Homo sapiens: one gene and its partners. The protein of the gene in region 2 purifies or fractionates together with the protein of the main gene of each other region. This does not show direct contact. Each region holds a gene or a part of one and is shown on either strand. Other genes may lie near its edges. The genes, in order: LRIG1, CANT1, TOR1AIP2 and ITGA6.

Region 1 (7,957 bases), on a different chromosome or scaffold from region 2:
AAGACACTTCAATGCCATTTGTTAGACACTTCAATATTTTACATGGTTTTCAATGTACACTGTACCAAAATTTCTATAAATAAATAACTTTGTACATAAAAGTAATACTCCCTCTTTCACATTGCCTCTCAGAAGCAGCAAATTCACATATTTTGTGGAAGTAAGATTAGTCAGTTAACTGTCAAGAACAAAATTCTAAATGTGCTTACCTTTTGAACAGTGATGACACCTGACAGTAATTGTTAACTATTTTCTCAGTAACTCCCTTCAGCTTTTGGCCAAAGGAACATTTGAAGGACCTTGTTTCTATTTAAGTTTTACTAAATGACACATTGGCACTCATAAGATGGTTAGCTACCAGTCTCAAAAGTGCAAATTATACCCAGAACCCAGGTCAAGGGCTGTCCTTTCCAGTCCCAGCTCAGTTTCATCTGTGCGAAGGAATGGCATGGACAGGCCTGCTCTGGGTCCTTAGTAGAAATAAGGTAGCCCTGAAAAGTCAGAACTTCCTCCTTTCTGTCCCCCAAGGCCAATGTAATACTCATTATATTGGCAAAACGAAAACATCAGTATAGAAAAATCCACAGGTACCAACACCAGCAGCCTTTACCTTAATTTAAAAGTCTCAAATAGCAATCGAATGATACTGAGAAGGCCACATTTGCTTTTATCATAAAATAAGAGGAGGAGGAAAGGCAGTGTTTAACTGTTCTGACCTTTTGCTTGTGATGGATTAACAACCCTCATTCTACGCCTTACAGACGGACAGATTCTACGCCTTACAGACAGACAGGACTTAAACCTAAAAGGAAAAGCCATTCACTGCAAGTGTGGATGGCACTTGCACCCCTGGCTCTACAGACAGGGAAGCCTGTTGCAGGGGCATCCACACATGAGCAGTGCTCACCTGAAGCTCCTTCCGGCGCATGTGGAGTCCCACCGCACAGCAGCCTAGGGGTCTATGAAGTGCAATATAAATCCAAGGCCTTCCATCCTTCCCACCCCGCACCAAAAACTCCTGTGAACAAATGTGGTTGTAGCCTCTATAAATTCCAGCCATGCGTTAAGGCACCAGAACTATTTCCCCACCCCCTCCAAAATTAAACAGCAACCTGATACGAAAAATAATATTGTCAAAATTGTATAATTTTTTTCTGTTAACCATGCACTAAAGATTAAAATAGCCTCTGTAAAAGATATATATGAAATCTCTGAAAACTCTTATGTACAATGATATCAAATACTTTTTTTGCCTTTTGTACACAAATCCCCTCTTGCGTTTACTGTGCTTCAGATCCAAGTCCTGTGAGCGACTGATACTCCACATGGGAGTTACAACTATGTACAGATGAGTGACGCTTGAACCCAAGCTTCCTCGCAGCCTCTCCTACCTCTCTTTCCCGTAGAGATTGGTATGACAAGAACTGAGGTAGACAAAACCTAGCTTTTTGGTGCCAACAGCAGTGGCACCCTCTGTTTCCCGGGGAGCTGTCCTGTCAGTGGCGTGGACTCGGGACTGGCGTCACATGCTTTGGGGAGGTGGCCATTGGAAACAAGCAAGTACTGGGCTTCCGCGCGCTCTGGACTGCCTGAAGTTAATGAAGATGCAGGCTGTAGCTCTGTGGAGTCCGGGTGATACAACCTTGCTAAAGTCCAGGAAGAATCCCCTACAAGGAAAGAACGAACCTGTCAGACCCCCACTTGACCGTTTAAGCAGCTCCCAACCCACCTGTTAGAAGACAGTCAAAAGTTACCTTTCCCATCTAGAGATGCCATTGGCTTTTTCTTCACAGCCGTCAGCATTCTATCGTGGTTACTGGGGTAGAGCGACCCTTGGCACTCGGGGCAGGACCCAGCGGCAGTCCTGCTGCACTGGTGATGTGGAGAATGCTCTTGGTCACTCCCACCCGGCTCCGGGCCATTTGGCGCACTTGGCTGTGCGCTGTCTCTGGACACAGGCTGGGGGTGGAAGGCTTGTCCCCTGGAGTAACAGTCCACTTCGGTGTTGCAGTCACTGCATACGACCCGGCCACCGTGTTCTGAAGGACAGCGCCAAAGATGGGTTAGAGTCACTGCTGTGGGAGTCTTCGTCCCCACACAGAGGACAGGCTGCTCAGCTCCACTGTGCAAGGTGAGAACCCTGACTGCAAACACTGTATGCATGCTTCCTCTTTTCCCCAACTATGTCCCCAGAGAAAGGACTGGGCAAACACCAAGTCACTCATGAACTGTGGGGTCTTTCGTGTTTACAGTGAATTTCATAGACAATGTAGTCTTACTGCTTCACGGGGGAAAAGCCATTAGCCTTAGGTACCATGCAGTGTTGGGTCTTTTCAACAATTAGAAATAAGCCTCAAAATAGCCCTGGTGAAAAAGTGCTGACTGAAACTCTATACTTCGTTTGTGCCTTGCCCCTTATTTAAGTTGCTTATACATCTAGAAAATTCATGCTCAGGCTTACCATGGCGTAGATTTATTTAGGAGAAACTATCCTGGAATTAAGAGAGCCAGGCCTGAGCTTCCCCTGTATATACTGAATACCAAATTTGGAGACAGCTGTGGACTAGGAATGTGTCTCCCCCTTTGATGTAGTGACTAGGTCAGCCCAAATTTCCATTTCAGAAAGAAACTACTTCCAATGGGAAGCATCTCATACCCATCTTATGTGGCCCAGGTGTCCCTTCAGCTTTCTCCATCGCTTTCCACGGCTCTTTGTGATACGCAGACCCAGCACAGAGCTTTGGCTGCCTGCAGGCAACGCTGTGAGTGTCGGGCTCTGGAAAGTGGCTTGCATCTCTTGGACACACACCTGCAAGTGGATTCCAACACGATTAGAAACTCTGGGCTTGGTATTTCACAGTAAGCCTTATGAAAGGAATGAGCAAGGCCGCTAGAACAGTCATTTTTTTTAAAAAGTTCTTCAGAGCGGTGGGGCTGCTGGTCTGGCAAGCAGCGTGTTTTCTGCTACTACTTCCCAGCAGGCAGGCTGGCCTTGTGAAATGAGCAGCTGTCTCAGGGTGAGCCTCTACAGTCTCAGGCAAGTGCTCAGAGGCCCCCACCGTTGGAAGTACCTCATCCTGGTGACAGCTTTCCAGTGTAAGACTGGATCACAGAGCAGACCTGGGCACGTTCCCCATGTAAGGAATGGGTTGGCTGGGTTCATGCACCGTAATGCCCTTTCCAGCTGCTACTCCAGGCAAGCCTACTTTATCCTGCCAGGGAGATGCTAAGCCCAATCCAGTGGCTTCCTGAGGGGACAGGACTTTAAAACCTTGCAGAACTCATGAAGACTGGGTCCAAAATAGCAGCCCTTAGTCATACCGCCTTCTACTTCACCAAGTTTGCCCCATCTAATGCCAGGTACCTGCCCTGTAAAGACCTGGAGGCCACCTCCAGCACCCAGAGACACAGTCACAGCAGAGCTCTGCTTCACAGTTACTGAGGCCTTACCATTGCTCTCAATGTGCCCATTGGCCTGAGGGCCACCCTCGGTCCTGACCACGGTTTCTTGTCGGTCAGAAAGGGTCCCCTGAGAAGAGAGGTAGCTTGGAACATCTGGTGGCACGACGGTTTCATCTGCAAGGAGACAGAACAAATAGAACACCAGGGTCTCAGTGACAAGAAATGCAGACACACGTTCACTGTCAAGCTCAGAAAGGGGATCCTCCCAGTGACGACCATCAGCGCTGTGCAGAGAGATGACATGGAGTCCATGTACGCAACAGGCCCTCCCAGAGCCTGCTCAGCTTTACTCTACACCCAGCGTGAAGAGCGCAGCCAGCAGATGCCAGACGCCACAAGAAGTGGAGACCAGTGATGGAAAGCCGGGGCTCACAGAAGTACCGCACTGTTTCAGGAACAACCTACTACGTGGCAGCAGGGCCTGTGCATAGGCGGCCTCTGAGTTAGCAAGGAGAGGGAAAACTGCATGGTGCGTCAGTTACTTGTATTTGTGAGTATTCCTGTTTAAGGTTAAATTTGAGAGTATTCCTGTTTAAGGTTAAGTTCCTCAAAGTTAAAATGGAATTAGTGGGACTAAACCCTCAGGAGTTCTGAACACAGTGCAATTCTTTCAAAAGCCACTGGAACCCGGCCCAGTTCCCCAGCATCACTGCCATTCCTCCCTCCTTGAAAGTCAGCTCCGCTGGCAGGGCCTGACCTGTGTTGGTGACACTGTACTCTTCACTCTTCTTCCTGGTCTGGTAGATGATGCACACCCAGACCAGTGACGTCAGGACGATGCTGCTCACGACAGCAATGGTGAAGATGCCTACCGTGGTCCCATCCTTCCTGCAGCCTGCTGCGGGCAGGACGCTCAGCTGGCTGTGAGCTCGCTCCGTGCCCAGGGTGTTGGACATCTCACAGGTATATCGGCCCGCATCCTCTGCCACCACGTTCTGAACCACCAGGAGCTGGTTGTCAGGGGTCAAGTGGTGCCGCTCAGTGAGGCTCAGCGGGCGGTCCCCCTTGAACCAGGTGATGCGGGGCGGAGGGTTCCCCGTGGCTTTGCATTGGAGGGCCACTGTTTCTCCCACAGATACCACACGGTCTTCCAAGGGGACCACCAAGGATGGGGTCTCTACAAGAGAGCAACAGAGATCTTAGTCATTCTCAGGGCCTCCGTTGCTCTGGCTCTGCCCGGTCTTCTGGACAACGGACAATCCAACATATCAATGAGATGCATCTGAGATTCTGTCTCAGAGTGGCAAGCTTTGGAGAAGACCCTTCAACTCATTGACTGAGTCATCTCCATGCTGGGAGTGGCTTCCACAGGGACAGTGAACCTCTGCTGACAAAAGCCCCTGCTATTCCCTAACTGTCCTGTGTCAGGCCTGTGTCCTTATTCTTGACCAAGCCCACATCCATCCTGTCCAATTCTTAAAATGTTCTGTAGCTCTTGACCAAGCCCACATCCATCCTGTCCAATTCTTAAAATGTTCTGTAGCTAAACCCTATGAAGACTCTTAATTCACCAGCTATCATTTCTTTTAAAGAGATAGAAACACTTGTTTAAGAAAAATTAACTCAACTCAAAAAGCAGCCCCAAATTTCAAACAGGGTCGAAAGGCCCACAACGCATACCACCCCTGGCCACACAGAGCATTTGAGAGTCTCTCTCTCTCGCTCACACACACACACACACACACACAGTAGAGCAATAGGCAAACCTAGGACAGTCAGGGTGGCATTAGCTGAAATAGAACCGGCTGAGTTCTGAGCAGTACAGCTGTAAACCCCTGCGTCATCTATTTTCACATCAGTGATGAAAAACACGTCGTCATCCGGCATGACATGCATGCGTCGCTCACGGGCAGCGGGGAAATCCGTGCCTCCATCCTTCTGCCAGGCAATCTGAGGGTTTGGGTGACCTGTGGCAGCACATTCGAGGCGGGCCATGGTGGTGGTCCGGATGGTTATGTCGTGGGGCGTTTTGGTGAATGATGGCAACACTGGAAAACATACGTATACAGGGTCGGGTTACGGGACAGCTAGATGCAAAACCAGGAAGTCCTCTGGCAAACACCTACCTGTCACTGTGCCCAGTGCCAGTTCACTTCTTTTCTCCCAATGTCTGCCCAGGACCACTCCTGCCACCTGTGAATCAGGAACCCCCAGCTTCTCCCACCACAGTTGGAACACTTCCATCCCATCAGCCTTGCATTGTACACCCTAGGCTGGCTATAGTCCCTTCAAAGCAAAGGCTTTTACTCTACATGGCAGTGCCTATACGGGAGTTGCAGGGGGTGCCCATCCACACTAGGTAGGCCTGATGCTTGCCTGCTTTACCCACCAAGAGAGAGGCTGTGGAGATGGAATTACAGAGGGAAGGTGGGCATGCCTCCACCTTGGGAGAGCAATGGGATGGCTCATCCGTTTGGATGGGTGTTCATGGGATGAATGGGATGGCTCATCCATTTGGATGGTTGTTCACCCAGGCTGTTCCTGCCCACTGCCGTATACCCAGGCAGGAAGCATTCAGCTTGCTAGCTTGCTCAGCCTAAAGATCGATGTCCTGACAGAGTGGGACGCATCCAGCCACGTGTCAGGCACCACCAGAGTTCCTGTCAACGTCAATTTTGGGGAGAGTCTAACAAACAGCTGAGTCTTTCGGAAGCTGTGAGGACTTGGAATAAGCCAAGACAACCCCACTACAGTGTGGTAAAGAAGGTGTTTCGCTGTGATCTGTGGGGGCTTAAAGAGCAAAGCAGATCCACCATTCTGATGATTCTCAAGCCAATTCTTTTTAACTAGAGAGTTAGTAATCAGGATAACCCCATTAGGTTACTGGGGTGGGACAGTAAACTCTTCAAGCTATCTACTCCCCACCCCCCTCCTCCAAACACACAATAACACATGGTCCCCTTGACAAGCTCCAAGGCTGGTTAATGAGTAAAAACCTGTCAACTGCCAGGACACTGTGTCTTTCAGGCCAGGGCTCACACCAGCCTTGCACTCCACAGTCTCTGGAGCAGTAGCTAGCCTCTGACTCCAATGCTGTGCCATCTACTCAAAGAACAGCAGCTTCCCCAGGCTAAGGGGTATTTGGAATTTGGAAGCCAGATCTCTTGGCTTATAGAGGATAAGAACTGGACAAAACAAGGCTTAGCTCTCCACAATTTGACTTAATAACTAGTTTTTGTTTTGTTTTTGAGACAGTCTCACTTTGACACCCAGGCTGGAATGCAGTGGAGTGATCTCGGCTCACTGCAACGTCCACCTCCTGGGTTCAAGCAATTCTTGTGCCTCAGCCTCCCAAGTAGCTGGGATTACAGGCATGTGCCACCACACCTGGCTAATTTTTGTATTTTTAGTAGAGACGGGGTTTCACTATGTTGGCCACACTAGTCTCGAACTCCTGGCTTCAAGTGATCTGCCCACCTCAGTCTCCCAACTGCTGGGATTACAGGCATGAGCCACAGCACCCGGCCAATAACTAGATTTTTAAAACTCACCAAAAACAAGTAACTCATTGTGAATAACCCTTGAAATCTGCAAAACTTGCTCTGGGGCAAACCCAGGCAACAATAGGATTTAACAGTGCCCCACAGAAGCATGTGTGTGTCCTGTCTCAGTCATCTCTACATGGAAAGCTGAAAGGGCAATCAGGAGTGTGCTTTGTAGGATTCTGGTACTATAACAAAGATGGTGTTTCCATACCATTCACGGTGAGCCTGGCCTTATGTGAATAGGTGGAGCCAAAGTGGTTGGTGATGACACATTGGTAGCGGCCCTCGTGCCCGAAAGTGACCTGACGGAGGTGCAGGATGGTGGTGTACTCCATCACTTCCCCGTCCTGCGCGTGGACGTGGACAAAGTTCTCCATGTCTGCATTGGTCAGGACTTCATTGTCTTTCTTCCAGGCAAAGGTCATGGGGGAGCTGCTGCTGCTGGCTGCTGAGCATGTAAACCGGATGTCCTTGCCCACCATAGCCATGGTGGTTTCTGGCTGGGTGATGATCTGTGGCTTCAGGAAGTCATCTGGGGAGAGAAGGGTCAACTGTAAAGCGCTGGGTTCTTGGTACACAGAGGAACCAGCTGCTGTTCATGCTAACAGAAACTGACACAGACACCAAGCAGGAACCAGAGCTTGAGGTCCCTGTGCATCCTCAGCCCCACCAACCAGATGCCGTAAGAGTTGCACCATGGACATCTGACCTCATCTAATTAGAAGTCTGTGAGTACTGATCACCTTTATGATCACACTCCTTGATTAGAAATTAACCCACCACTTCTCAGTTCTCAAACCAGCCAGCCGGCAGTTTCCTTAAGACAACTGGCTCTGCCTGCTGACTTTCACACAAAACAGTCAGGCACCACTGGTCATGACTGCAGAGATCTTACCCACAAACCTTACTCCAAAAGGAGGGGGTGTAAAACACTTCCAAAATGTCAGAATAAGGACCTCCAAAAATCTGCACCTCCATTAAAACAAGGAAAACACCTGGAAAAATGGTCA
Region 2 (7,957 bases):
CCAATATCAAGGGAATTAGAAACTTTTATATTAATTCTTAAGAATGTTCATGTTGATTTTCCTTTTACTTTAATCAAGATGGTTAATTAGGAAAAAATCATCCTGGCAGTAGAGAAGTCTGTTTGGGGAGACGTTCTGTTTTTTGTTTTGGACCCTGCTCGTCTTTGTCATGCGTGCAGTGGTCATGTGGAGCGCCTGGTTCCCAGGCAGGACGCTGCTCCCCGCGTTCCTCTGGGATGGTTTTATGGGAAGTGAAGAAGGCGTTGAAGTCTGGCTTAAGACTTAAGACAGTGCGTGATGCCACCATGTGGGAGTGGGGCAGAGGTGAGACTGGGACCCCCCAGAATGGCTCTGAGGGTGTTGCCGGGTTGAGTGAAAGTCCTGGCGATTCGGCCTTTGTGTCCCGGGAGCCGAGCCTGGAGGAAAGCGTGAGGAGAGAAGGTGGCAGTAAGCAGGTGGGCTCGTGCAGGTGCCACCGCGGTGTGGAAGGCAGCCCTGATCCAGGTCCATGGGGCGATGATCCCATCCCGTTATTTTCACACACTCTGGAAAAGGACACCTTCCCAGATGTGTGGTGCCATTTGGAATGTGCCTTTCAACTGAGAAGGTCGCCTTTTGGCTAAAATTCCTCCAGGTGTAACATCGATGATACAAATTAAGCAGACACAGCCTCTTTACAAGGCAGTAACTGCAAACCGTAGAGGGTTCTGAAGCTGTGCGCCCACACCATAGACAGTGACTGGTCCTGGCCCTTGGAAAAACCTGGAGGCTCTTTCCCCTCTTCCTCCTGTGATTGGTGGAGGAACAGCTCCCCGAGATGTCCACGTCCTACCTTCTGAGCCTGTGAATATGTTACATTACATGGCAAAGGGGAATTAAGGTTGCTGATCAGCCGGCCTTAAAGTAGTGAGATGATCCTGGATTTTCCCAGGGAGCCCAGTGTAATCACAGGGTCCTTAAGAACAGAAGAGGGAAGCAGAAGAGCCGGAGGGAGATGATGGCCAAGAGCCTTGGGGAAGTGCAGTGGGCGGGCTTTGGAGGGGGAGGAGGGGCCACCAGGCAGGGAATGTGGGTGCCTCCAGAAGCTGGAAGAGGCATGAGAATGGAGCCATGGCCCGTGTGAGGCTTCTGTCCCACAGGACGGTGCCTGCTGCCTGCCGTGTGCTGGATACTAGGGGCGGGGACAGGTGCAGAAGTCAGTCAGATCCTGAGCTTGACCTTTAAGGAGCGTGCTGTCTGTGGAGGCAGGATGGCCTAACCAGACTCCCTGTGACCTTCTTCCTTTCTGGTTTCCTTGTACTGCCCACCCCCGAGGAGATTTGCCGTGGAATTTGCAGGTACAATAGTTAGCCTTGCAAGTGCCAAAGCAGGAATCAGGTAACGTTTTCAAGGAGTCTGGCCCATAGCAGGCATTAATAAGTGTTTCTTTGAGATGCGCCACCCGTGTTCTCTCAGGCGCTGTTAGCATGAGTGTGTGAAGGCCTTGGCTTCTGCCTTGGCTGTGCTGAAGAGTCTGTAGGTCAGTGGGGTTTGCTCTTTACCATGGCAGTGAACACAGTGGGCACTCTGAGGCCTGCCTGCCTGCTCTCTGGGTGTGGGAAGGGAAAGGAAGGTAGCTCTTCTCCAGAGATAAGGGGTTGGCGCACCTGCCACCTGCCTACCCGTCCCTTCCAAGGAGGTGGGGGCTAGGATGTGGCGGCCTCTTAACAGGATGATGTGGCTTCCTGCCCTGCCTGGATCCTGAAAGGGAGGAGCCTGGCAGCCCTCAGTAAACCTGCTGGTTCTGCCACCTGTCCTATTCCACTCCTGCAGGAAGCTGGAGAAACAAACCCTCTTGGCTGTCTGCTGTCCAGGGAGTCGCCACTCCCTTCATTATAGCCTTGCTCAGAGTGCAGCGGCAGGCCTGGGGATGGCCTCGGGAGGTAGGTGGCCCCTGAGCCCTTCTCCTGGGAAAGGGCAGCAGCAGGGAGACGCCTCCTGGGTGTGCACAGAGAAAAGCACAGTTTCCCTAACTCCCCGCTCCCTAACTCCTCGCTCTTTAACTCTCACCTCCCTAACTCCCCCCTCCCTAACTCCCTTCTCCCTAACTCCCCTCTCCCTAACTCCCTTCCCTAACTCCCCTCTCCTTAACTCCTCTCCCTAACTCCCCCCTCCCTAAATCCCCTCTCCCTAACTCCCTTCTCCCTAACCCCCCTCTCCCTAACTCCCCTCCCTAACTCCCCCTTCCCTAACCCCCCTCTCCCTAGCTCCCCTCTCCCTAACTCCCTTCTCCCTAACTCCCCTCCCTAACTCCCCTCTCCCTAACCCCCCTCTCCCTAACTCCCATCTCCCTAACTCCCCCCTCCCTAACTCCTTGCTCCATAACTCCCCCCCAGCTCCCCTCTCCCTAACTCCCCTCCCTAACTCCCCTCTCCTTAACTCCTCTCCCTAACTCCCCCCTCCCTAAATCCCCTCTCCCTAACTCCCCTCCCTAACTCCCCTCCCTAACTCCCCCTTCCCTAACCCCCCTCTCCCTAGCTCCCCTCTCCCTAACTCCCTTCTCCCTAACTCCCCTCCCTAACTCCCCTCTCCCTAACCCCCCTCTCCCTAACTCCCATCTCCCTAACTCCCCCCTCCCTAACTCCTTGCTCCATAACTCCCCCCCAGCTCCCCTCTCCCTAACTCCCCTCTCCCTAACTCCCCTCCCTAACTCCCCTCTCCTTAACTCCTCTCCCTAACTCCCCCCTCCCTAACTCCCCTCTCCCTAACTCCCCTCCCTAACTCCCTTCTCCCTAACCCCCCTCTCCCTAACTCCCCCCTCCCTAACTCCCCTCTCCCTAACTCCCCTCCCTAACTCCCCTCTCCTTAACTCCTCTCCCTAACTCCCCCCTCCCTAACTCCCCTCTCCCTAACTCCCCTCCCTAACTCCCTTCTCCCTAACCCCCCTCTCCCTAACCCCCCTCTCCCTAACTCCCCTCCCTAACCTCCCTCTCCCTAACTCCCCTCTCCCTAACTCCCCTCCCTAACTCCCCCCTCCCTAACTCCTCTCCCTAACTGTCCTCTCCCTAGCTCCCCTCTCCCTAACTCTCCTCTCCCTAACTCCCCTCCCTAACCTCCCTCTCCCTAACTCCCCTCTCCCTAACCCCCCTCTCCCTAACACCCCTCCCTAACTCCCCCCCAACTCCTCTCCCTAACTCCCCTCTCCCTAACTCCCCTCCCTAACTCCCCTCCCTAACTCCCCTCTCCCTAACTCCCCCTCCCTAACTCCCCACTCACTAACTCCCCTCTCCCTAACTCCCCTCTTCCTAACTCCCCTCCCCAATTCCCCCCTCCCTAACTCCCCCCCAACTCCCTACTCCCTAACTCCCCGCTCCCTAACTCCCAGCTCCCTCACTGGTGGCTCCCCTGCGCTCTGGGAGTGTCCTGTGGGATGGACAGATGCCTCCGTGGTGCCTTGCAAGCCTTGCAGGTGGTTATTCCTCCTGTGAGTGCTCCTGTGAGTGCTCTCCAGGCAGCAGCAGGGGTCCTGTCCCTGTAGGCCCCTGAGTCTGGGAGATAGCTGGTTTGCAGCCCCACTGAACAGGAGAGCCTGGCTGGCCACAGAACCCATGACTTTGCTGTAGTCCCTGAGTCCTCTTGTTGCTGATTATCTAAAATCAAACCATTACTCTGCAGGCACTGGGTTTGTCAATCTTTTCACAATAAAGCGAGCATTTAAACTGCTTAAGCTTTGAGGGGTGTAGGGAGAAGCCTCACACGAGCCCCTTCTGGAAAGGACTTTGTCCATCTTGTGTCTTACCCTCGCCGGTTCATTTCTGTTGTTTCTGGCTGGCAACAAACAAAAGAGCCCCCCCACCCCCCACCCCCGAAAAAGAACCCAGCTTTTTAAAGAACATGCAAACTCTTGCCTGCAGCAGGCGCCGGCAGCCAGGCACCCCGGCAGCCAGTGGTAGCTCATACACCAGCATGGGCTGTGGCAAAGGCATCTGATTTGAAATTTTTTTGCAAAATAAAATAATTCCTTGGGGTCCTGAAGGAGAGATGAAGCCCAAGGGAAGGTGTTCTGGTGCTGAAGTTAAAGGAATTTTCTGGAAGGTACACAGAGTTCTCTTGTCACTAGAAGCAGTCCCTTGTTTAACCAAAGGTGGCTGAGGCCCTGGCGTCTCTGCCCCTCTGTTAGCTCTGGGGAATCAGCGTGACCTCGAGGTAACACTGACCACACGGGACTGTTCAAAGTCTGTCTCCCCAACTGTGCTGAGCTCCTGGAGGAAAGGCCCCTGCCTCCGTCACACTGATTCCCCAGAGGGGCAGAGACGCCGGGACTCAGACACCTCTGGTTCCATGTGGTCAGAGGACATGAGCCTCCCGGGTGGGGAGCGTGTGCCACGGTGTAGATGCCAGGAGTCTGGAATAGGAAGGCGTGCAGTGTTGCACAGCGACCTGGGAGAGGTCCTGCTCCTGGGAGTGCAGGGGGAAAAACCCACTGAGGCTTTCTCTGCAGGCTGAGACGTTTGTCCTTCAGATGGAAGGCATTGGGATCTACTAGACTTGGAATCCAGACTTGCTTTTTGGAAAAATTATTCTGTCAGTTTTGTGGAGGGTGATTTGAGATGGTCTTGACCAGGGATCTGTCGAGGGACAGGGAGTCAGTATTTTCAGCCTCCACAGTCTGTTGCGACCACTCAACGGTGCAGCCAGACTCAGCATGCCAGGGAGGAGTCCTAGCTGGCTTTAATCAGCCACATCTACACACCAGGACGTGACTACACAGCAGGCCGCGTCTACGCAGGCCGCGTCTACACACCAGGCAGAGTCTACACACCAAGCTGCAACCACATACCAGGCCACACAGGCCGCATCTACACACTAGGCGGGAGACTGCATTTGGCCCACGGGTGGTAGTTTGCAACCCTCCCAGCAGGCGAGAGGGTACTTGTAGAGTGAGTGAGAAGCAGTAGCAGTCAGCCCCTGTGCACAGTTCTCTAACCCCATCAGCATGGCTCCGGGAAGTAAACTGAGGCCAAGGGAAGTCCCTTGGCTGAGCCCAGATGGTCTATATCAGGGGTGTCCAATCTTTTGGCTTCCCTGGGCCACATTGGAAGAAGAATTGTCTTGGGCCACACATAAAATCCATTGATAGCTGATGAGCTTAACAAAAAATCTCATCTCATCATGTTTTAAGAAAGTTTACGAATTTGTGTTGGACCACATGTTGGACAAGCTTGGTCTAGATCATTAGACCAAGACTCTGAGAGTCATCAGGGTGAGATGGAACTGGAGCCGAGGCTGTGTGGATGGGGAGAAGGGAAGCGAGTCTCAAGCTGGGTGGGACACGTGGGGCTGGGGAGGGAGGAGGGTTAGGACGAATTGCTTCCTGGGATGGCTCCTGAGGGCCGGCACTGCCAGGACAGGGAGTTCCTGAGGAGGACCTGGTTTGCGGTGCCTGTGGGTATCGGATGAGGAGGCTCAGAGACTAGGTCAGGCTAGAAAGGCGTGGGGGTCTTCACCTTAGAGGGCAGGCCCTGGGAGAGGTCAGTGGGCTGCCAGCAGTGGGGGCCGAGAAGACCTGCCTGGGAGGAGGCCCACAGAGAGTGCCCCCCTGCCTCGAGGAGGGACACTGACAATGTGCTCACTGGGTTTGCCACTGGTGAAGGCTTCAGGTGGCTGCTTCTGAGGATTAGCCAGAGGGAAGGAGAGGGTGTAGGTGTGGGTGCTCTTGTACCATGGTGGGCGAGGGGGCCTGGGCGGGGGTGGGAAGGGACAGAGGTGCCGGGGACTCAGGGAAGGGTTTTCCTTCATTAACAGATTCGCCATTTATTCAGCAGCAGTTGAGTGTCTGTGGGAGTGTGGGGTCTGGAGGTAAAATGGTGACAAGGTGGGCGACTTGGGGCAGCCTGTGGATGGAAGGGAGGAACCAGAAGAGCAGGTGCCCGGCGGCTGGGGGGACTGACCTGAGTGGCAGGTGTGAGCCCCACCCAGGGGCCTCGGCTGCTGAAGTTGGCCACAGAGTGGTCTCCTGGGAGAAGTGGGCCGGAGATTTGACAGGAATGGTGAAGGTGAGGACAGTGGCTCTCCGGAGTGCTGAGGGAGTTGAACAGGGAAGAACATGGGGGTTCCAGGGGCTGGTGACGACGACACCTCACGATGTCTGACAGCAGTCTATGCAGGCACCGTTGTTCTGTGCTGGCAAGCACCGTCTTCCCGGGCCTGCAGCTCAGATGTGGCAGCTGAGCAGCTCGATCTTTGGGGTGCTTGATCCAGGTTGTGGGTTCATAATATGCCTAAGGTGGGGCCCCCGGTAGAGTGCAGAGGGGCTGTTGAAGAAGTGGCTAATGGCTCACCTGGCATCTCTTTCCCTTCAGCCAATGCGTGCAGACTGTCTGCTCCCTGCCTGGCAGTGCGTCAGGTGCTGGGGCTGTGACAGTGGCCAGATCCCTGCCCCAGGAGCAGAAATAATCACCTAGCCAGGCAGGGACGGTGGGAGAGCCGGAGCGGCATGGGAGGGAGGGCGAGTGGGCAAGTCTTCCCAGGGAGCTGATGCCCCGTAGGAGAGACCGAGCTGCTGGTGCGAAGAGCAGGCCCGACTGTTCCAGGCAGGGGGAACTGCAGGCTCTGCCAGGGCCAGTGTGGTCAGGGGACAGAAGGAGGTCTATGTAGCCAGCCGGCAGGCAGAGGAGATGGTACAGTGTGAGGGCTGAGCGGGAGCAGAGTGGGTTCACCCCAGGACCTGAGGAAGCCGCTGAAGCTGGGAGTGTGCCATCTGATGGATGCTACTTCATGGCAGGTGGCGAGGGAGTGTCAGGGGATGTTGGTGGGGGGCAGCTGGCAGGGCAACTTCATGGCGGGGGGTATGGGAGTGTCAGGGGCGGAGAGGCAGGAGGGGTGGAGGGAGGCAGCCGGCATGGCATGGTGAGGAAGGGCCATGGAAGAGGACAGAACCTGTCCACGGAGTCAATGCTGAGGAAGGAAGACGGAGGATGAGGCCAGTCAGGTTTTTCGTGGTGGCAGTGCCTTATGTTTTTATCGAAGTGTATATTCACACAGAAAAGCACATCTCCCAGGATCCTGAGAGAGCTTGAACCAGACCACTGTGGACACGGTGGCCACCCGTCACCACTACCCTTCCCAAGGGGAGACGAGGAGCAAGTAGGCTTGAGGGAAAAGCTGCACAGGACTCGTGTCTTGAAATGTCTAAGACGCATGTCAGAAATGCAGGTAAGGGGGGGTGCGGGTGCTCGCACCTGTGATCCCAGCACTTTGGGAGGCTGAGGCAGGAGGATCACTTGAGCCCAGGAGTTCAAGACTGGCCTGGACAATATAACGAGGCCTCATCTCTATAAAAAAAATTAAAAATTAGCTGTGCCCCAGGTGTGTTGGCTCACACCTGTAATCCTGGCACTTTGGGAGGCCAAGGCAGGTGGATCACCTGAGGTCAGGAGTTCAAGACCAGCCTGACCAACATGGAGAAACTGCATCTCTACTAAAAATACAAAATTAGACGGGCGTGGTGGTGCATGCCTGTAATCCCAGCTACTAGGGAATCTGAGGCAGGAGAATCACTTGAACCCAGGAGGCGGAGGTTGCAGTGAGCCGAGATCGTGCCATTGCACTCCAGCCTAGGCAATAAGAGGAAAACTCTGTCTCCAAAAAAAAAAAAAAAAAAAAAAAAAAATTCGCTGTGCGTGGTGGCACACGCCTGTAGTCCCAGCTACTTGGGAGGCTGAGGTGGGAGGATCGCTTGAGCCTCAGAGGTTGAGGCTGCAGTGAGCGTGATCACTGTTGCCTGGGCAACAGAGCGAGGCCCTATCTCAGAAAAACAAAAAAAGAAATGTAGGCGGGATTGGCATAGCAGGTAAGATAGAGTAATTCGAGCTCAGTGGAGACTTCTTGGGCCTGGCTGGGGTTTTGAGGCCTTGGGACTAGAAAAGGGGCAGGGCCTGGATGCAGTCAGAGGAGGATGTCCAGCACGGGGAACCCC
Region 3 (7,957 bases), on a different chromosome or scaffold from region 2:
AAGGAATTATAGCCTTAGTTGTGGTAAGCCAAAGCACTCTCCTTACAGAAGTAATAGCTGTGATTCTCAGATTTTAAAATGGTAAATTTAAAAGGCGAATGAAGAGGCTCTGATAGTGCTACGACAACATGGGGCCCATATTTTGATGGAAGTCCCAGAGCGGGTGAAATAGAGTCAAGTAGACATACTGATGTGTTTTCTGAGGTTAGGTAACAATGTACGGGTGAGGGCTACTAATTCAGTTCCTCAGGCAGAGTGGACAAAAGGCTTGGTTTCCGACTCAATGACTAGATACTTGGTGCTGATAGCACAGGGCATAATAGATTTCCCTGAGGGTCTGCTGACAAGAGCTACCAGTGAAAGCTTCAGCTACTGAATTAAATCTTGGGTCTCTAGTCATGGTACAGAGAGATGACGAATAAAACTCCCACAATGGTGGATAAACACAAAAGATAAAAAATTAAAAGTCTGACATTTAATTGATCAGATTTTACATTTTTAGAGTGAAATCAAGTAAATGCAACAAGATACTATTGTAGTGTCAGCAAGATACTATTTCACATCTACCACACTACAAAAACTGACAAAGGGGGTTCCACATACTATAGCAAAAACCACTCCTCCCAGAGGACTCTATTGGTAGGAGTCAAGAGAAAGCCCTAAAGCTCCAAGTGCTCAGAATAATTCCATCCATTCCCCAACCTTCAGTTTTACAACTTCAAGAATCAAACAAGCACTAGAATTCCAAGTATTCCTGCATCAAGAGAACTCCACCGTTCCATATGTTTCAGACAAGTCTTCCCTCCTCTCCTGGTCCTTTAAACCTCTGTAGGCAAGAGCCACCAGGGGGCCCCAGAACTCCAAATGCTCAAAATAATACCACCCATTACCAGCTTCCTCACTCATTCTTTAGCCTTAGAGCTACTGGATGAGTAGGAGTGAAGAGAGGGGCCTGGGAAAATGCTCCTGGCAAGATTCCTAACCCCTATCCCCACCCCAACACTCACAGCTTCAATACAGCTTCAATTATCTGCTTGAAAGCATCAGGACCAATCTCATACCTATATCTCTGTTCATGTCAATCACCACCTGAAACACAGGACTTCTTGGTTATATCCCATCCCCTTAGCCTCAAATCCCCCCATATGGCTCTATCAGCAATGCAATAACAAGTACTACTAGGCTTGCTTTATTTTTTTCACATAAAACAGGTACCATTTTGCTATATTATTTATTTTGGCTATTTTTCTCCACTAAAATATAAACTCCCTGAAAGCAGGACATTTTACCTTTCTATTTACTGCTATAGTGTCCAATAAATATTTCTGGAATGAATAAATGACAAAAATAAAATGTAACTTGAATTCTTATAGTCTAATGACAAGACTATAAATCTGTACAATCACTTTTGGAATTGGCATTACCTAGTAAAACTGAAGATGTGCATTTCCTATAACTCAGCAGTTGCACTCTTAGGCACATACCCTAGAGAAACTGCACCTGTACATTTAAAAACATGAATAAAAATATTCATGGTAGCACTGTGTAATAGCAAAATAACAGCCACAATGGCCACGAACGGGAGAATGAATAAATTAAGGTATTGCTGTACAATAGGATACTGTCATTCTAAACACAGATGAAACTCAAGAATGTTGAGCTTAAAAAAAAAATGCAAGTAGCACAAGGAAAAAAATAAACACATGCACACATTCTTATATAAACTTTCCACTTACATAAAGTTTCAAAAGGATATAAAATTAATGTGTTGTTTAGGGATATTTTTTTGAGACGGAGTTTCACTCTTGTTGCTCAGGCTGGAGGGCAATGGTGCAATCTTGGCTCACTGCAACCTCCGCCTCCTGAGTTCAAGTGATTCTCTTGCTTCAACCTCCCGAGTAGCTGGGATTACAGGTATGCACCACCATGCCCGGCTACTTTTGTATTTTTAGGAGAGACGGGGTTTCTCCATGTTGGTCAGGTTGGTCTTGAACTCCCAACCTCAGGTGATCTGCCCGCCTCAGCCTCCCAAAGTGCTGGTATTATAGGCATGAGCCACCACCCCAGCCCAACTGTGTATTTTTAGTAGAAACGGGGTTTCTCCATGTTGGTCAGGCTGGTCTCGAACTCCGAACCTCAGGTGATCCGCCCGCCTCAGCCTCCCAAAGTGCTGGGATTACAGGCGTAAGCCACCGTGCCCGGCTGCAATAAAGCTTTAAAAAAAAAAAAAGAAGTATTAAGTCCAAACCTGAGGATAATTATTACCTCTGATGGGAGAGGGAAGGGTGGGGGATGGAGGGCATTCAAAGAATTTCAAAGATAATTGTAATTTTGTTTTCTTTAACTGGGTGAAGGTACAAGAATACCCACTGTATCATAAATCCTAATAGCTTACAGCATCTCTATTCAATATTTTATAATGTTTAAAAGAGAAAGAGGTTAATAAGCAAAACCAAACTTTCACACTGTGGACAAGACCAGTAGCAGTTAATCTGCTCAGAGGCAAAGCAGGTAACTTACATTGGGATAAAGAAGAGCAATATAGAAGGATATGGATCTTTGTTTTCCTCACAAAATTTTAAGCAACCATCTCTTCATAGAAATAAGGTAAAAGAAGCCTACCTAATGGTTGTACAAAAGAGGGTTTATCTTAGCATACTCTCTGAAGGCATGAATTTCTGTGTAGGGAAGTTGCTATTTCACATGACGCCTTTGTACAAATTAGAAAAAGGCACAGTTCCTCCAAGCAATATACAACTCAGAAAACTTTATTTGGCAGGATATTAAACAGTATACAGTAACCCTCTGTCAGATAATAACACTTAGTAGCTAACACTTATGGAGTGCTATTTTCTGTTCTAAACACTTTATTCGTATTAACTCATTTAATCTGCTCACAAAGCCAAAGGATACTCTTCCACTATGAATAAATATTGGCGGTGGGAGAAATCACCCCTCATAATTTTTCACTTCCACACCAAAAAATACAGGATAAACTTCCAGGAGTCCTGAATCCTCTGAAATTACATGTAAAAATCTTTACGGCTGGGCACGGTGGTTTACGCCTGTAATCCCAGCACTTTGGGAGGCCAAGGCGGGTGGATCACGAGGTCAGGAGATGGAGACCATCCTGGCTAACACATGGTGAAACCCTGTCTCTACTAAAAATACAAAAAAATTAGCCAGCCGTGGTGGCGGGCGCCTGTAGTCCCAGCTACTCAGGAGGCTGAGGCAGGAGAATGGCGTGAACCCAGGAGGCGGAGCTTGCAGTGAGCCAAGATCGCGCCACTGCACTCCAGCCTGGGGGACAGAGTGAGACTCCATTTCCAAAAAAAAAAAAATTTTTTTTACATACACATGTGCATTTTTTTCCAAAAAGATGGTACATCCTTTTAAACTCCTAGAGGAATCTGAAATGATTCAGGACCATTAGGCACTATGGTTCCTAACCATTTTGCTATCAAAGGTAACTTTTTTCCAATCCCACCCCTCCTCCTCCATTTTGGAAAGATGTCCAAACAATCTGCAGTCTTGTAATAATTTCGTTTTCTCATTTTTAGTAATCGGATATGTAGATCTGCCAAACAGAAGTTCTAATAAAACAAAAAACTAATGCTACTAGCCTTGGTTTAAAAACTTCCATTATTTTAAATTAGACAAAATACTTTATATCCCTATAACACAGAGTTGGAAAGATCTGGATATCCTAAAACTGGCTTCCTTTCTCAACTTCATTAGCTTAAGTCCTAAGCAGCTGATTTAAGGTAAGTATATGACTATCATTAGGTTTTTAGAAATGCTAAATAAAAATACCTTGAGAACTACCATTACTTTATGATTGTTAAACATAATTGTTTCACTTATTTGAGGAGCGCACCATGTGCTAGGCCCAATGCCAAGTACTATGGATACAGAAAGAAAATCATTCAGGACTTCTAGATGTCTAGGGAATCCAGACTGGAACCAGTGATTTAGGTGAAGGCTAAGGGCTCTTAGAGGGATATAAAAAGATCCCCTGTAGGCTAAGGGCTCTTAGAGGGATATAAAAAGATCCCCTGTAGAGATCACAGGAAATTTAGGGAGGCCCACAGCAAAAGCTGGGATGCTTGTATTTTCAAACCTCCTTCACTAAAAACAGTGAGCAAAAAAACAAAATTTGAGGAGCTTCTCTACTGCACAAATGCTATACAAAAGAAAATACAAATCAGGGGTTTTGTGTATGTAAACTAAAATAAATTTAAGATCCTTCCTGAAACTTTATTAAAAGAAAATTTAGAAAAGAAAATAGTACTTTCACACCAAAATAGAAAATGTAGTTCTATTTAATCCACTGAAATTTACATCAACTAACCATGGCAACTTTTTAATTAACTTCTCTAAATAGTCTATCTTGTTCTTTGCTATTTCCTGAATGTATGTTAGTAAGTTCAAATCTGCCTTCAATAGATAAAAATTCCCTTATTCTTTTTTGTGGTAGCATAATAATTAAGTTTCAGACTGAGTCTGGATTGGAATGACTTTTCCAGGCAATTTATCCCTTAGACTTCAGCCTCAACCAATTCCTCATATGATACATAAAATCAAGATAGGCACATAGAAAAAGTATAAATGCTTTAAACTCTCTTGAATTCCCATTTTAAATATTTTCTTCTAGGGGGTACTACAGTCAAGGCTAATCAATAATCATAACTTTTTTTGTATGAGATGGTTTCTCCAATAAGTTTCATACACAAAGTGAAATCTTAAGAGTTTCCTATTTCACAACTACCTTAGATAATGAGAGATTAAGGAGTATGAAAAAAGGAATCATTCTTCTTTTTGAATTCATATAATCTAAAATAATTTTTTGTTGAAAATAAAATGCTCCTGGAAAAAAGTCAACTTGTTTTGTGAGAAACTACTTTTAATTTGGCAATCTTGAGATCACTGAGAGAAGGCATATGGATGACAATCTTCAGTACTATTTAGTACACACACTGTTCCCTCTTTAGAACAGAGAAGCCAAATAAAAAATATTACCCAAGGTTAGAAAATAGCTGCAGAATGTTCTCCTCTCTCTTGCCCCAGGAACTGACAAACGAAACAGGTGTGTATGCATTGCTACCATACTTTTTGAGGGGCATGGCCATAAAGGAGAACAACTGGTTTGGAAACCTACTGGTACATTTCTATCTATGTTGCTCTAATGCTCCAAAAGCCCATGGTCCAAATTCTGTCTACAATTTCACTTCAAAACACCAGCAGCCAAACCTTTAAGGCTAATACACAACTTTCAACAGTCAGATCTGGTGCCAAGCTTAGGTATTTCTATAACTTGTGCTAGCTATTTATTGTCTGTCTAAAACTAAATTTCTAAGTCTTGCCCACTCCTCTGTACCATATCCACTGTCATAATATCCCAGCATTATTATTTTCACAATTTTTCGTTTCTCTGTATTTTCACTAACTGGTGACTTATTCTAGATTTTTGAAAGAAGTTTGAAAAAGTACTAGCCTCGGAACAAAAAGCACTCTACTTCCTTAGGGAATTGTTTTTTACACAGGAATTGAATGCCTGGCGCAGATCAAATTCTACAGATATTTTCTGAGTGCAGAAAGCCTTCCTTTCCTACTTACCCTTTTTCATACTCCCTCCCAACTCCTTTGACTTGTATCTCTAGTTTCGGTTGACCACGTAGAGGTATTAAGCTATGCACGAAGGATCTAAGAGTTTGCTAAGATTTCTGACAGTGGGTGGCACAACTGACTGCCAGGTTTAGTTCAACTTCCCTAATCACTTTTAGTATCTACTTCAAGTCAACATATTTTTATTAAACTTTTTATTTTGAACTAATTTTAGACTTACAGAAAAGTTGCAAAAATAGCACACAGTTCCATTATATCCTTCATCTAGCATCTTACATAATTAAAGCATAGTTATCGAAAACAAGAAATCAACATTGGCACAATTCAATTAACTAGAGGCCATATTCAGATTTCACGATTTCTTTTAGTTGTTATTTTTCCTTAGTGTCTAGTCTATGACAGTTCCTCAGTCTTTACCTGTCATTTGTGACCCTTTCTTGTCTTTGTGACCTTGACACTTTTGAAGAATACTGGTCAGTTATTTTGGGTTCGGTGTTTTTTGTTTTTAAAAATAGACACGTGGTCTTGCTATGTTGCCTAGGCTGGTCTCGAACTCCTGGGCTCAAGCGATCCTCTTGCCTTGGCTTCCCAAAATGCTGGGATTACAGACATGAGCCTCTGCACCTGACCTGGCCAGTTATTTTGTAGAATGTTCCTCAGTTTAGAGTTTTACAATATTTTATCATGATTAGAAAGATAAAAAGATTATGCATTTTTGGCAAGAATAACAAACGTCACAGAAATGCCGCTGTGTCCTTCTCACTGCCTCTTTGGGTTCATGATGTCCTTGTCTCATTACTGGTGATGTTAACCTTGATCACTTTGTTAACATAGTACCTCCACTGTCGGATTACTATTTTTTCTTTGTAGTTAATAATTATCCTGGGAGAGATACTTTGAGACTATGTAAATATTCTGATTTTCCTCTAACTGGATTTTGTCTGCAACAACTACTATGGTACTGTTTCCCTAATGGTGGTTTTGTATTTCCTTCTTTCCTTCTATGTTTATTAAATGGAATTCTTCTGTTAGAGTTGTCCCTTCTCCCCTACTTATTTATTCACTCAGCAATATCAGTATGAACTCATTTTATTTTATGGGTTAAAGTCCAATACTATCATTATTCATTTTATTGCTCAAATTGTTCCAACCTGGATACCAGGAACTCCTTCAAGTTGGCTCTTGGGTCCTTTCGACAAGGTCCCTAACTTTTTGTAGCATTTCCTTACTTTCAAGCACCATAAGATTTTTCAGGCTCATCTTGTATTTTCTCTGCTCCCGCACTAAATCAGCCACTTCTCTAAAAAGTCCTAGTTCCTTTAAAAACCAAGATCTGAATGCTCAGTGCTACTGGGGTATAACTATCAAGTCAACAATATGGACAACAAGTGTTTGTTTCCTTACTATATTAAACTCACTAGCTGGGAATCACTAGCATTACCTGGGAGCTTGCTAAAAGTACAAATTCAGGCCCCAACCTAGACCCACTAGACCAGAATCTCTGAGAGCCTCCTACAGGAATTTATGTTTTAACAGATTTGCCAGATGACTCTGGTGTTCACTATAAAGTAGCTGGGTGTGGCAGTGTGTGCCTGCAGTCTCAGTTATTTGGGAGACTGAGGTGGGAGGATCGCTTGAGCTCAGGAGTTCAAGTTTGCAGTAAGCCATGATAGTGCCACTATACTCCAGCCTGGGCAACACAGCAAGTCCTTGTCTCAAAAGAAAAAGAAAAGAAAAAATAGTTATAAAGTACCTTTATACAGTACTTCAAAATATACTGTAGTCAGGTATGGTGGCTCATGCCTATAATCCCAGCCTTTTAGGAGGTTCAGGCAGGAGAGGACTGCTTGAGCCCAACGGTTCAGAGACCAGCCTAGGCAACATATCGAGACCTTGTTCATACAAAAAATACAAAAATTAGTCAGGTATGGTGGTGTGTGCCTGTAGTCTCAGCTACTTGGAAGGCTGAGGTAGGAGGATCACTTGAGACTGGGAGGTCAAGGATGCAGTGAGCCGTGATTGTGCCACTGCACTCCAGCCTGGATAAGAGAGAGAGATCCTATCTCAAAAAAGAAACAAACAAAAAACTGTAAATACTGTTACTTTTATACAAAGAAAGTTATAAGTCAGCCTCCAGGATCAAGTCCAATCTACAAATATGACCTAACATCCATAAAGCAAATCTACAAATATAGAACCCAATATAGCACTATCCTCTAAGGTCAGACTGCCTAGACCTGAATGACTGCTCCAGCTTCTGACTTGGTGTTTCTCTCTCTCTCTCTATGCCCTTGGTTTTCTTTGTTTTTTGTTTTGTTTTTGAGATGGAGTC
Region 4 (7,957 bases), on a different chromosome or scaffold from region 2:
AACATGTTCCCTAGCTCTCCAATCCCCCCAATGCCCATTGATGATCAACATGTTATAAAAACACTTGACAGACCCTCTTCCCTTTGCCCAGCACTCCTGTCATCTTCCCTGTGGCTCCTCAGGACAATAGAGTCATCATGAAGTGGAGGTGGGAAACTGAGGGGGATCCCACCAAGACAGAGGGATGCTCACCATATCCCACTAGGCGCCCCACACGCTGTTTTCTGGCGGAGGTCAATTCTGTTAGGAGTTACTGTGATGGTTTTCTGAATATTAATCACAGGCCGGGATCTGAAGACAAAAGGAGTGAAAAACAAGCTCAGCCTCTGTTACCTTGAATGTGAGTCTAATTCACATACTAGAGAGCATCCTTAGCTGCCCAGCACAGCTTAAAAACACAGGAAAAAAAATACACGTGACGTTTTCCCCCATTGCTGAAGAAAATAACTGTTAATAGATATAAATGTATACAATGCAGAGCCTCATTATACAATATTTGTTTAAAAACGTACACACTTATGAGTACATGTGCAACATGTGGGGGTTAAAGTAAATATTTTGTCTCCATTCCCACCCGAACACCCAAGTAGCCTTGTATGTTCTTCCAGACACGTCAGTTAAAATTATCTAAAATTAAATATTAAAATATATGTATAATTTCAACTAAATGGGAACTTAATTGCCATTGTTCTGTATGTGGCTTTTTCTCATCCATTTCAGAGGTCTTGTCCTGTATATACACATAGATCTAGTTCACTGTTTTTCACACCTGATGGCGTTACACTGTATCAGTGTAACATCCTTTATTTAACCAGTACCTAATCGGTAGACATTCACGTTGTTGAGCTTTCTGCTTTCACAAACATCATCTGTGCACACACTTGAGTTTATCTGTGGGATAAATTCCCAGCAGCAGAATTTTGGAGTCAAAGAATATGTGCATTTTTAATTACGAGTAGTCTTGCCAACATACCCTCTGGAAGAATTACACCAACAAACACCTAATACCTGAGATGCTCATGATCAGCGTGTCTACAGTATGTGAATTAATACAGGCAATCCTGAACTTGGGAGTCTCCATTGTACAAACACTTGCCCTTCTCTTCAGCCTCCCTCGGAGTCTCCCACCCACAACCTTCAGTCTTTGCCTTCCTATTGCCAGGATTGACAACTTTTCTACCCCCACGATATCTCTGCAAGCAAAAACTTAAACTTTTAAACTTCTTCCCATCTCTGCGCTGCCTACTGCAACCCCGCAAACACTTGAGAAGCTGGAATCCAATTCCACGCCCTACTCTGGTTCACCATCTGAAAACATCTTTTCGTATGTTTTGGCTGCCCTGCTCCCAGCAGCCACAGGGGTCTCCACGGGTCTGTGGCCCAACTGCTGCCACAGGCACAAGAAATGCAGGTATGCGGTGGGTTGAGGGGTATGAGTGGGTGAGGAGGCCCACCTCCATTGCTCCCCACCAGAACTCAGAATGGGGCCTGGGGTTTCATTACCACGTGGATTCAGTTAGGCTGACTCTGATGGGCTTGTGGTAAACCCAGCCATTCTGGAGAACAGTGTTTCTACAAGAAAATGCATTCCAAATCCCAAACAGCTAGCTCGAACTTCTGGAATCAATCTGTTGGTAGGCTAGAGCACAAGTCCATTCACAGTGAAGGTAGGGTCCAATAAAGGGTCAAATACTGCCCACATTCCCTGTTTTTCCATTTTCCTTTATTGTTTACCATTCTATTTTTATTTTACATTTAGACAGCTGCTAGGTTCTAAGATACTAACTAGATACATTCTTAAGTTTTGAGAGCATATTTAAAAGGCACAGTTGCCACAGATATAGTATTTTACATACTGTAGAATTTTAACAGACATTTCTGCCTAGAACATATTTTGTTTTTTAAACATACAACACACAATTTTGAGGGCAAAATATACATGAATTATGAAAACTGTGTCTTTTAACATAGAAAATAAGTCTTATTAGTTTGGCTGCCTCATGTTTAAAATTGGTGTTTATTTACTAACTACCCTGAAGTGCTAGTACAATTTAGTAGAAAAAATGCACAGGATTCAAGTCAGGAAGATTTAGGTGCTACATTCTGTCCTCTCAGGCTCCAGCCTTAAAAGCTCAAGCCAAGTCCTGGGCCTCAGTTTCCTCATTTGTAAAATAAGGGGAAGTTACTCCTCTTCTTATCAAAGGGTTGTTGAATTCTACTTTCACACTATCTGCAAGTAAAGAGGGAACAAGTGTACAGGGTTGACAGTCAACCTACTTATGAGGACAGGAAAGTAAGGATATTAAAATATCAGTTACACATAGACAGGGGCAAACATTTAACTGACTAAAGTTAAGTCATCTATTGTATTGACAAGGAGAGATAGCCCAAGATTAAATAAAAACCAGATTAGACAGCAGAAGTTACAGTGTAGCCTTTTGATGATACCCTAAAAGTAGAGAAATGCACACAAGTTTTGTGGAAGATGGGAATAATGTACTGGATTTTCTATAATTCTATATTATTAACTTTAAAAAAAATAAATCTGCTACTTTTTGAAAATTAAAAAACAAACCAAAAAAAGCCTCCAATTTTTAATGGTGATTTCCAGCAGTGATGAAAGCGCTGGTTAAAGGGAGACTCAAACACCACGGATGGGAAATGTCGCACCATTTTGGGAGGTCATCTTGGCGAAACCGAATCAAAAGTCTTGAAGCACATATATCAATTTCACATCCAGGAATTTATAATAAGGAAATAATCAAGGATATAAACAAAAGTAAGAATGTTTTCCACAGCTTTTTATATCATGGGAGCAAAAAAAAAAATTGCGAAGCAACGTAACCATCCAGTGAGAGCAAGGCAGTTGGTTAAATAAGCTCTGAACCTGTCAGAAGATGCCTCACAGACAGTTGTTAACTTCATTTTGGAAAAGTACTCAGTGACATAGGAAAAGTCTACTATGTATCCTAAAGAGACAAAAGCAGGTTACAAAATTATGCACAATTATGGTCTTAATTTTGTTAAATATACATGGTCCAATCACAGAAAATAAAATAGAAATCAAGATCTTGGAGTTTAATAATGCATGGTGAATTATAGGGGGTTTCCTTCTGTATGTTCTTTGTACTGTCACATTTTATATGTGTTTTGTTTTTTTCATCATCAAAATTAAGGTTTTAAAAATATATGAAGTAAAAATTCTAACTTGGATCTATGTTTTCCTCAGATACTTTAAAAGATTTTAGAAAATAGGTTGTTATTACATTGTTTACTAACTTCAAAAGAAAAAGAAATAGCTTCACAATTCATATAAACCTTTGAAGTATAGGTATGACAAATTTCAGTCCAAAAGGTCAACATTTTAGTATAACCTGATTATAGAACATGCTTAACACTAAAATCATAGATAACAGACCTGAAAATAGTTACTGAATCTGAGAGGGAACCAACAGCAACATCAGGGTAGGAATTTCGATCAAGGTCCATGTTTCCAGCAATTGAATATCCAAAATAAGGTGATATACCCTTGAGAACCTGAAATACACAGGGCATCCGAATGGACATTAGGTTATCACCATGAGCTTCTTAACAATGCTTTGAAAAAGACACACAAGTTTCTTTTGAACTGAAATTTGAGAGTTCACTTATAAGTAAATTATATTATATACAAGTCATAAATTTCTATATGATCTAACACTTCATACATTTCATTTCATAAAAGTCATCCGATTTACATAGTATCTCAAAGCAGAAAAGAGCCCATTTCTGATGAGCTTGTTTATTGTATTAAGTCAATCAGGCCATTTCAAACCAAATCTCCCTACCTTCCCTACAAGTCTTATTTTTCTCAAAAGACATTTTTAATTTTTGGTGTCTACATTCTCCATGTAGTTACAGTCATTTATTTTGTTTGACCAATTTCATCTCTATTTAGTATGCTACTAAAGAGAATATATCGTATTTCCTCTTATCTTAATGCCGTCAGGGTAGAATAACATTCATTTGCTTTGGATTACCTTGATTCCTAACTTATCTAAGAAATTTTACAATTAGAACAAGCAAGTCATTACATTTATATATTTATTTTGAAGGTATCTTCTAGTAATACATTTTTAAAAAATTTATACTATTGTGGACTTGTAAATAAAATAAGATTTGTGTGAAAAGTCACTTAAACCTAAATATTTTATTATAGGGCAAAAAGTTGAGACTCTAGCTGTAGAAATCCCGGTTATTTGGTTACCTGTGTTGGTTTGGTATTTATTCCATTTGCAGATCCATGATAGATAAAAACCTTTCCCAAGTCATCATACGGAGCTCCAACTGCAATATCTGTTGACAACATCACATTTTAACATTTTAACAAACGCTTTAGAAACACTCTAGTAAAATGTTTTAAAGTAAGATGACACAAGCACTATTATTTATTTGTTTGGCTTTTTCGGGGTTTTTTTTTGTTTTTTTTGAGATGGAGTTTCGCTCCTGTTGCCCAGGCTGGAGTGCAATGGCGCAATCTTGGCTCACCGCAACCACTGCCTCCCGGGTTCAAGCAATTCTCCTGCCTCAGCTTTCCAAAGCTGGGAGTAGCTGGTATTACAGGCATGTGCCACCACACCCAGTTAATTTGTATTTTTAGTTTCTCCATGTTGGTCAGGCTGGTCTCGAACTCCCGACCTCAGGTGATCCGCCCACCTCAGCCTCCCAAAGTGCTGGGATTACAGGCGTGAGCCACTGTGCCCAGCAGCGCTATTATTTAAACAATCAAATAATCTATAAATCATAGCCATTTCATAATCTATTATCTACCTGGGTAGCCATCTTGATTAATATCTCCAATATTTTTTACTGCAATGCCAAACATAGAATCTTTGGTTCCATTAAGACGAATTGGCTTCACATTATTCCATCTGCCTTGCTGGTTCATGTAGACATACACTGCACCTCCAACTTCTCCATCTCTATCAAAATACTGTGGGGCTCCAATAACTATATCTTGCCACCTAAAAACATAATGAGGGGAAAGAGCCGTGAACCAACAGCTAACATACCAGCAACACCAGTCTAGGTACTAAGGATACAAAGACATATAATAGAAAGGCCCTCAACTCCAGAATTTATGACTCAATTATAACATTTTTTAAAAACCAAGGTAGCCTATAATAAACGCCCCAAGAAAAATACTAAGGGTAAGAACTCAAAGCCAATTTCTCGAGTTAGAACCATAGTACAGCAGGACTCCCATTAAGACCTCACTGTTCTAACCCCCCCAACTGGCACCAACAGCCACATATCTGTTTTTTACTTTATCACCAATTCCTGTTTTCAACGGGAGCTGATGCTCCATCAGCCCCATATGAAACCACAGAACAGAATCATGCAAGTGTTTTCTGAGTCAATTTTTTTCAAATTTTAATTCTCATAGACTCATGATCCCAACATATAAGTAAAAACTGAAAATCAAAAATATAATCCTATACGCTGGGGAGGGATATGAATGTCTGTCTGCTGCCATCATAGAAATGATAAAGATAGGCTGGTAAAAATGCGGCAATAAAAATATTCTTTACGTCAATGAACCTGAAAGGACGGCTCTTCTCCAGTCGTATAGAAGCTAGTCAAAGCAGAAATGATTTGCAGCATAATATAACCTGAGGCTTTCTCACCCATCCTTGTTGAGGTCCACCACCGCCACATCATAGCCAAATGAAGAGGCCAGACCTTCTCCATCGAATATGTGCTCAGGGAGGAGATGTGCAGACTTCATGTCTCTCTTCAGCAAAACCACGGCTCCACTGTGATTGGCTCTGGGAGCACCAGATACAAAAGTGATCTCATCTTTAGAAACAATACCTTTCCCTGAGTCCAAAGAAAAACCTAGAAAAACAAAATATATAGAGCCCCTCACATCAATCCATATATTTTAGGCCTATGACATTGGTAACTCCATCATTACCTCTTCCTCTGGCTTCCCACCCCTCTCTCCTCTTGACCCTCCCACCAGCTATCACATTCGTAATATGAGTGACAGAGTTCAGATGTGACACAAGGACAAAGTCCTGGGGCTAGCTAATTTACTGCTTTCTATGGATATTAAGACTTTTAACTAAAAGCACCTATGTATAACTTGAATTTTGAAGTATTCATACATCTTAAGAATCAATTTCCACCCTATTTTAATATTGGAACTATGGTAAAAGGAGATCAAGCTAGATACTGAATTGTCCAGGAATAATTTGGTTATGTTACATCATATACACAGAGAATATATAACCTGACTGGAAGCATAATTGAGTGCATGTTACAGGGTTCTGCTGTAATTTAATGACCAGTATTTTTACAGGAATAAAATAAAATTGAAGAAAAAGTAATTAAGCTTGGTAAGAGGCATCAACTCTTTGGTAATCAGACAAAAACAAATGCTAACATCATTAATACACCATAGATAGCATTTCATTGTTTTGGACCAACTTAGTTCTCAGACACAAACATGCAGACAAAACAATGACTGATGATACATGGTATTTGAGAACCTAGTATAAACAACAGAGGTGAGGAAGTTGTCATTGGTATCAGTTATATACTTGTTCAGAGGGCAGAAAACATTAGGACACACCCATTATAAAGCATCAGGTAGGATGTCAGATTACAAATAACAGATCTGGTGAAAAGCAAATAGAAGTGCCCATATCAAAACCATTCAAATTAAGTAAATGTTTCTATAGAAAGGTGAGGCAGATGCAGAATAATATAAGCTCACCCCCTTTATTGGGTTTTACTTATGAAAAGCTTCACCACTACCGTTGCAGTTCTCAAATTGTGAAGTGAATTGAAAAACATGAGCCACCAGATTAGAGGGCAATATGGAGTCCAGCTCTTACAACCATCTGGCCACAGAGCCCCAGCCATGGCATGCTTTTTGTGTGTGCTTCAATGGAAACAAAATAGGGCATAAAAAGATTTATGCTCTGTATGGATCAAAAAAAAAAATTTAATGACCACAACCAAGACAATTTATTTGTCGTCGCAGAGGTCACAAACCTAGGTAGCTATTCATCATCACATCAGGGAATGTGTCAGGCTGCTCCCGGGGAGGCCGTGTTTTATAAACAAACTGATCAGGATCTGTATAGGAAACGCTGGTCAAAAACAGCAGGCCTGTACGCATGCACGGGACGGAAGAAATTGAAGAAAAAGTAATTATGCTTGGTAAGAGGCAGGACAGCCACTGCTGTTCTCGCTGGATGAGGAGGCCACCACTGCATCCGGCAAGCTGCTCTCATTGCCAGCTTCCAAAACCTCAAGCAGATCGTTTTGTTCCCCCAAACCCTCTGATCTTTTGAAGTGACAGATTCCACACAGTACAGACAAACCGAATGTAACAATATGAATTTGATTTCTTTCTCAGGCATTCACTTTTGAGGAAATCCATTCTAAAAGTGGCAAATGTGTTTGAGAAAAAATGCTTCATATTTTCAAATGTTCTGACAGCAAGTAAATTTATAAAATCCACAGCCATCCATCTTAAAGACCAAAGTATTGGTTTCTTGGCCAGTGCAATTACAATCAAGTATTTTAATCATAAGTAATCCCTAAATGAAACATTCTGAGGTAAGGTCCTGCTCTGTTGCCCAGACTGGAGGGCAGTGCTGCAATCACAGCTTACTGCAACCTCAACCTCCCAGGCTCAAATGATTCTCCTACCTCAGGCTCCTGAGTAGCTGGGACTACAGATGTGTACCACCACGCCTGGCTAATATTTTTGTATTTTTAGTAGAGAAGGGGTTTTGCTGCATTGGCCAGGCTGGTCTTGAACTCCTGGCCTCAAGTAATCCGCCTGCCTCAGCCTCCCGAAGTGTTGGGATTATAGGCGTGAGCCACCAGGCCCGGCCTGAACAACTTATTAGTGCGTGTTTACTAGCACATTGCTTGAAATTATTCATGTATCTATACCTGT

What was found.
Region 1: the proteins of CANT1 (region 2) and LRIG1 purify together in Homo sapiens (affinity purification with mass spectrometry; 3 studies listed by BioGRID and IntAct, with this or other methods). This does not show direct contact.
Region 3: the proteins of CANT1 (region 2) and TOR1AIP2 purify together in Homo sapiens (co-immunoprecipitation; 3 studies listed by BioGRID and IntAct, with this or other methods). This does not show direct contact.
Region 4: the proteins of CANT1 (region 2) and ITGA6 purify together in Homo sapiens (affinity purification with mass spectrometry; 3 studies listed by BioGRID and IntAct, with this or other methods). This does not show direct contact.

The regions. Positions count from the first base shown.
Region 1 is NC_000003.12:66,378,823-66,386,779, forward strand, and holds part of LRIG1 (leucine-rich repeats and immunoglobulin-like domains protein 1 isoform 1 precursor), read right to left. Parts: intron 7,480-7,957; coding exon 7,159-7,479; intron 5,451-7,158; coding exon 5,169-5,450; intron 4,580-5,168; coding exon 4,160-4,579; intron 3,577-4,159; coding exon 3,451-3,576; intron 2,810-3,450; coding exon 2,657-2,809; intron 2,040-2,656; coding exon 1,755-2,039; intron 1,668-1,754; coding exon 1,441-1,667; 3' UTR 1-1,440. UniProt on the Homo sapiens protein: Acts as a feedback negative regulator of signaling by receptor tyrosine kinases, through a mechanism that involves enhancement of receptor ubiquitination and accelerated intracellular degradation.
Region 2 is NC_000017.11:78,999,337-79,007,293, reverse strand, and holds part of CANT1 (soluble calcium-activated nucleotidase 1), read left to right. Parts: intron 1-7,957.
Region 3 is NC_000001.11:179,867,072-179,875,028, forward strand, and holds part of TOR1AIP2 (torsin-1A-interacting protein 2), read right to left. Parts: intron 1,770-7,957; exon of another isoform or gene 1,737-1,769; intron 1-1,736. UniProt on the Homo sapiens protein: Required for endoplasmic reticulum integrity. Regulates the distribution of TOR1A between the endoplasmic reticulum and the nuclear envelope as well as induces TOR1A, TOR1B and TOR3A ATPase activity.
Region 4 is NC_000002.12:172,471,975-172,479,931, reverse strand, and holds part of ITGA6 (integrin alpha-6 isoform b preproprotein), read right to left. Parts: intron 7,159-7,957; coding exon of another isoform or gene 7,042-7,158; intron 5,878-7,041; coding exon 5,667-5,877; intron 5,004-5,666; coding exon 4,810-5,003; intron 4,336-4,809; coding exon 4,247-4,335; intron 3,538-4,246; coding exon 3,419-3,537; intron 292-3,418; coding exon 193-291; intron 1-192. UniProt on the Homo sapiens protein: Integrin alpha-6/beta-1 (ITGA6:ITGB1) is a receptor for laminin on platelets. Integrin alpha-6/beta-1 (ITGA6:ITGB1) is present in oocytes and is involved in sperm-egg fusion.